Regions from separate parts of the Homo sapiens genome. Here region 1 is linked to region 2. Evidence: fine-mapped expression QTL. A gene starts in region 2. The other region holds a variant in brackets. All regions are shown on one strand. Distances are between the middles of the regions.

Evidence for each region.
Region 1: its variant is fine-mapped to the expression of MAPK8IP3 in sun-exposed skin (GTEx, PIP above 0.99). The same link has a PIP of 0.9 or more in unexposed skin.

The regions. Positions count from the first base shown.
Region 1 is chr16:1,731,069-1,733,966 of GRCh38, reverse strand. All of the region lies in intron 4 of MAPK8IP3 (mitogen-activated protein kinase 8 interacting protein 3), which reads right to left. Among named protein-coding and RNA genes, the nearest start is that of MIR3177, 2.5 kb to the left of the region's middle. The variant T/A (reference allele first, on the strand shown) is at 1,211.
Region 2 is chr16:1,704,712-1,707,609 of GRCh38, reverse strand. It overlaps MAPK8IP3 (mitogen-activated protein kinase 8 interacting protein 3), which reads right to left and starts at 1,415. Exons shown (of 32, transcript NM_001318852.2): 1 at 953-1,415. The coding sequence starts at 1,270. RefSeq lists silencers at 872-921, 942-1,051, 1,322-1,661, 2,568-2,862 and an enhancer at 1,220-2,084.

The sequences.
Region 1 (2,898 bases), 26 kb before region 2:
AGCCACTGCTGCTGGCGTTGCTCCCACGGCCGGTGCCAAAGGTCCTGTGTGCCCAGAAGAAGTGAATGGCTGGGGCCAGGTCAGGCAGAAGGACCTGGTTGTGGCAGCGCTGACAAGAGAGCACCCCAGATCCATCCCTTACAAAATGATCGAGGGGCTTCTTCCAGAGGGCACCGTCTGGTTCCCTGAGGGGAGTGCAGCAGCCCTGACATAGCCTTCAGGAGCCGTGGCAGAGCTGCAGAGGGGACCCCAGCAGTGGGGCCCTGACAAGGACGAGGTGCACCACCATGGGGCTTCCCACTGAACTCTCGGCGCCAGGACGAGCCAAGGGACGGGGGCGGCGCCCAGCCCAGACTCAGCTCAGGTCCCTGGGTCCCGCGGGGACACCTCGACAGCAGGTTCCTGGGCCACCTTCTGCCCCACACCATGAGAGAAACATGCAGGACGAAGTACTCCTTGCCCCGCAGCCACGCGCCTCTTCCAGGTAGGCCTGGCCTGGCCCATGACGACGGCAGCATCAGGCGGCTCTGGAGCTGGGGCAGCCTCTGCTCTTGGCTGAGCTCACATGGCCCTGGGGCTCTCAGGACCTCTCGGGTGTTGTCTGTGGGCCTGGGGTGGGGATCACTGCAACTCGGAACCTGGGCTCTCGGCCGGCGTCCTGAGTTCACACGTCACACCTCTGGGATCTGGGATGAGCTGGGCACACTGTTGCTGGGCTCCTCCTGCCCAGGCGCCCTCCGACACAGCCTCAGAGGCACTCCTGTCTGAGGCTGCGCTGGCAAGGAGGCAGCTGAAGGTTCTGGAATGCTGCAGCTCCCAGGGGATGGCCAAACTGCCTGCCTCTGCCCCCAGCTCCCCTGAAAAACAACACAAAGATCCCGGGTCCAGGTTCGATTTTAATTCCAGTTAGCTTGGAATCCTCTTCCAACTGCCGAGAGCCAGAGGTGAGGATGTCCCAGCGTGCATGCCACGAGACGGGAGCTGCGAATGAGAATCTCCCACTGTGGGATCTGATGGAAACACCTGCAAGGCTTTCACAGCTTGCCAAGCTGGCATCCACACGCCCCGGTGTAGTTCTCATGGTGCTCCAGGTGGGCGGATGGCTGGCGCTGCCCATTCTTGGGGCAAGCTGGCATCCACACGCCCTGGCGTAGTTCTCATGGTGCTCCAGGTGGGCGGATGGCTGGCACCACCCGTTCTCGGGGCAAGC[T/A]GGCATCCACACGCCCTGGCGTAGTTCTCATGGTGCTCCAGGTGGGCGGATGGCTGGCACCACCTGTTCTCGGGGCAAGCTGGCATCCACACGCCCTGGCGTAGTTCTCATGGTGCTCTGGGTGGGCAGATGGCCGGCGCCGCCCGTTCTCAGGGCAAGTCCCTGAGAACTGCAGGTCCCTGCTCCAGCTGAGAGCAGCGAGACTGCCTGAGGACCTGCTGCTGCAGGCTCCACGGCACGCCCCTGGCCAGCTGGGCCTTTGCGCACACCGTGCATTTGCTCTCACGTCCAGAGACTCGGAAGCAGAGTCTGACAGCTTCTTCTGTATCATCCAGAACGTGACCCATGAAGCCCAGAGCTGGACGTTCTGACCCTTCTCGTTTGCAGGTGTAACCCCCAGAACAGGCAGGCACGATGCAGCTTTCGCAGCTGGCCAGGCCTTGATGGGGTGTGAGGGAGGCTTTTGCCATCGCAGCCCTGGCTGTGGGAGGCTTGGGGGCAGAAACAGGCTTCCCCCCTTCCAGCTGCCCCAGCTCTGTAGGACGGCAGCTTCTGACTTCAGGCCCTTCCTCCCCGCTGCTGGAGACTCAGAACGAGAGCGCCAACCTCCCCAGCCCAGGTCGCGTCTCTGGTCTCCCATGGCCGGTCCCCTGGAGCTGCAATACCCTGGCAAGATCTCTGATGCTCTGCTCCCTGGGGCCTGCAGCCCGGCTTTCTCCTGATTCAAAGGGCACAGAAAACGGAGAGGAACCCATTCTAGGCAGGCTCCCCCGACTCTCTGAGGAAAACCAGCACCGAGCCCTGGAAACCCACCGGTACCCCCACCCTGTGGAAGGAATAAGACTCAGTGCAGGGCTGGCCAAGGCTCCTGGGCTCATCCACACAGTATTTGAGGCAGTATGTTCTAGAAAGTCCCTCAAACACTAAACCATTGCCCCTAGGGGAAAAATATGTACACATGCAGGTACGCGTATAAGATTGTGATCTCAAATCCTCAAAGCCATGCATTCCGGTCAGTTCTACTTCCTTTATTTTACAAAAACGAAAAGGAGGTTGGAAATATAGGGTGGCTGGCCACCCTACTAACAGGAAATCCTCAAAGCAATGCATCCTGGTCAGTTCTATTTCCTTTATTTTAAAGGAAGTTGGAAATATAGGGTGACTAGCCACCCCACTAACAGGTGCCACAGCTGGGCTTGGAGCCCCTGGAACTAACCCTAGAACTGGCCTCATGCGTGACACGTGACACTGCCTGGCCCTCCTGTCTCCTCTCCGGGCATCTGGGTAGGAGGTGAAGAGGAGGGCAGAGCATCGCCTTGTCCCACCTCTGTGGGGAGCCAGCACAGGGACTCCCGTTTCTCCCTAATGTGTGCCTGTCTGCAAAGGACTGTTAAGTGCTCTGAGTACTGATTCCCTTTCTTTCTTTTTTGAGACAGGCTCTCACTCTACCACCCAGGCTGGAGTGCAGTGCGCAATCTTGGCTCGCTGCCACCTCCGCCCCTGGGGTTCAGGTGATTCTCCTGCCTCAGCCTCCAGAGTAGCTGGGACCACAGGCATGCACCATCACACTGGCTAATTTTGTTATTTTTATGATTTATTATTTATTTATGTATTTATTTTTGAGATGGACTCTCTGTCGCCCAGGCTGGAGTGCTGTGGCGTGATCTCAGCTCACTGCAGTCTCCGCC
Region 2 (2,898 bases):
CCACACACAGGCAGGCCGAGCTCAGTATCTGACGGTGAATGAATGAAGCTAAGTGGTGCTCCCCACAGGGCCCGGCTCTTGTAACTGCTTCACAGACAAGCGATTTCCAGGTTATGGAGACATCCTAGCACAGAATTAAACGCTTCAAACTCAGACTGTTAACTCCTCAGAAGCCAGAGTGGAGTTTCTCAGCCCTGGCTACATCAGCTAACAATCTCGCCAAGCAAGGAACCAAGGGGGCAAAGACATCACCTCCAGAAACTCGAGTGTTCCTTCTGCTGACAGAGGAGCAGCCCGCCTGCGGCCTTGTTCTGTGTTTACATCAACCACCCAATTCACCCGTGTCACAGACCTTCAAAATACGGGATTAGGGACAAGGGAAAGGTCTCCAACATCATCCACAGACGGCTGCAGCCCCCTAAGAACACCAAAAGATTCCTTTTCTAGATGGGTTTAGAATGGCAGCCAACAGAGGTAGCACTTGGGGTCGGGAAACGGTTTTGACTGAACACACGCACGAAAGCAAAGGCAATTGTCATGCAGAGGTGGGTGGGGAGGGGAGAGTGAGGCCTGGCTTTGAAGCTGAGCTCCCCGGGGATGACGCCAGGCACATCGGGTTTGGGGCTGAAGATTCAGGGCTGGGGGCACGGAGGAGGGGGCCAGGGCCCAGGCCTGGGCGGAAAAGGGGGTCCCCGGGAGTCGGGGTGGGGTCCCGGGGCAGGCGGGGGAGTGCTCTAGGGAGGTGTCTCACGGCGGGCAGAGGGGGTGGGGAAGTCCCGGGGCGGGGGATATGGGGTCCAGGCGGGTCTCGGGGCGGGGTCTGGGGGTCCAGGGGTCCCGCGGTCCGGGGTGCCGGAGCGGGGTCTGGGGTCGGGACGGGTGTTGGGTCCGGGGCCCGGGGCTGGCTGGGGGTCCGGGACGGGGATGCGGGCGGGTCCCGCGGCCCACGCACCTCCTCCGCCTGCCTGCGCAGCGCCTTCTCACGCTCGTACTGGGTGAGCAGCTGCTCGTTGTCCTCGCGCAGCAGCTCCAGCTCCACCTCGTGCTCCTGGTTCTCGCTGAGCACCGAGTCTAGGTTCTCCAGCACGTTCACCACCAGCGGCATGAGCTCCTTGACCACCTCCTCGTCGTAGCAGTGGATGAGGCGCTCGAACTCGCGGTAGATGGAGCCCGCCAGGCCCGACACCCGCTCCGACATCACCGAGCCGGAGCAGTAGTCGTCCTGGTACACCACCACGCCGCCGCCCTCGTCCATCTGGATCTCCATCATCGCGGCCACCGCCGCCGCCAGCGCGGCTCGCTATCCGGCCGGCGCGCCCGGCCCTCCCCAGCTGCCTCAGGTTCCGCAGGCCGCAGCCCGTCGCCTCCCGCAGCTGCTGTCGCCTCAGGGCTCCGCCGCCGCCGCTGCCGAGGCTGCGCCCGTCACTCACTCACCGGAAGTCCCGCCCTCCAGCCGGAGGGGGCGGTGCCCGCGCGTCCCGCCGCAGCCGCGCCGCCAGGGGGCGCAGGGGCCGTGACGTCAGAGGAAGCCGGGCTTCGGGCCGGAAGCGCGGGTGAGCCGGGCAGAGGGAGCTCCCGGCCAGGCCGGTGGGATCCGCGGGGCGGCAGTGGTCGCTTCCCCCAGCGCGCTGTAGCTTGATCATGTCCCCGCAACCGTGGGCTTCCGGTGACCTCGATCCCGTCTCCAGGCTCTGCACACTTCGGCGGACTTAGGTGAAGGCTCAGCGCCTGCGCCTCAATCCCGGCCGCCCTGATGAGCCTCCGTTCCCTACAGCACCGCGCCCCGCTCAGTGCCTCCCCTCTCCTGATGCCTTCCCCGCTCAGCTGGCTCCTCCCGGGATTCTGTGAATGCACCCTCAACGCCCATCTCATCCTGAAACCCAGCAGCGTGGCCTCCTTCCTTTCGCCCACTTCTCCCTACTGCACTGACTGCTTCAGATTTTCTTTTTTTTTTTTTTTTTTGAGATGGAGTCTTGCTCTGTCGCCCAGGCTGGAGTGCGGTGGCGCGATCCTGGCTCACTGCAAGCTCCGCCTTCTGGGTTCAAGTGATTCTTCTCCCTCAGCCTCCGGAGTAGCTGGGATTACAGACCAGCTAATTTTGTATTTTTAGTAGAGACGGGGTTTCGCCATGTTGGCCAGGCTGGTCTCAAATTTCTGATCTCAAGTGATCCGCCCGCCTCGACCTCCCAGAGTGCTGGGATGACAGGCGTGAGCCACCGCGCCAGTCCAGATTTTCGGTTACTTTTCAGCTACGTGCAATCTGTTTAACCCATCCACTGGGTTATTAATTGCACCGATTTTTTTTTTTTTGAGACGGTGTTTCGCTCTTGTCGCCCAGGCTGGAGTGTGATGGCGCGATCTCGGCTCACTGCAACCTTCGCCTCCTGGGTCCAAGCGATTCTCCTGCCTCAGCCTCCTGAGTAGCTGGGACTACAGACACGCGCTATTAACGCCCGGCTCATTTTTTTGTATTTTTAGTAGAGACGGGGTTTCACCATGTTGGCCAGGCTGGTCTTGAACTGCTGACCTCAAGTGATCCACCCGCCTCCCTCGGCGTCCCAAAGTGCTGGGATTACAGGCGTGAGCCACTGCACCCTGCCAATGATTCTGTTTTTGTCCTATTTGATTTCTTATATTCTAGCAGTTTTAATAGGCTCTTATACTTCCAACCACATATTTATCTTTAAGCGTTGGGTGTGCCTCATAACTACAGTATCTGCAGCCCTTGCAGGTCTGATTCTGCATGTCATCCTGGTTGACTCTTGGCCCAGGGTCCCCTTTCCCCCATTCTGAGCCAGTGTCCCCAGGACTTTTGTCTCTGGAAGTACTTGAGGCCTGAACTTAAAATGTGTTGCTCCGTAAGATTTGCACTTTATTTTGCTGGGCAGGGGACACCAT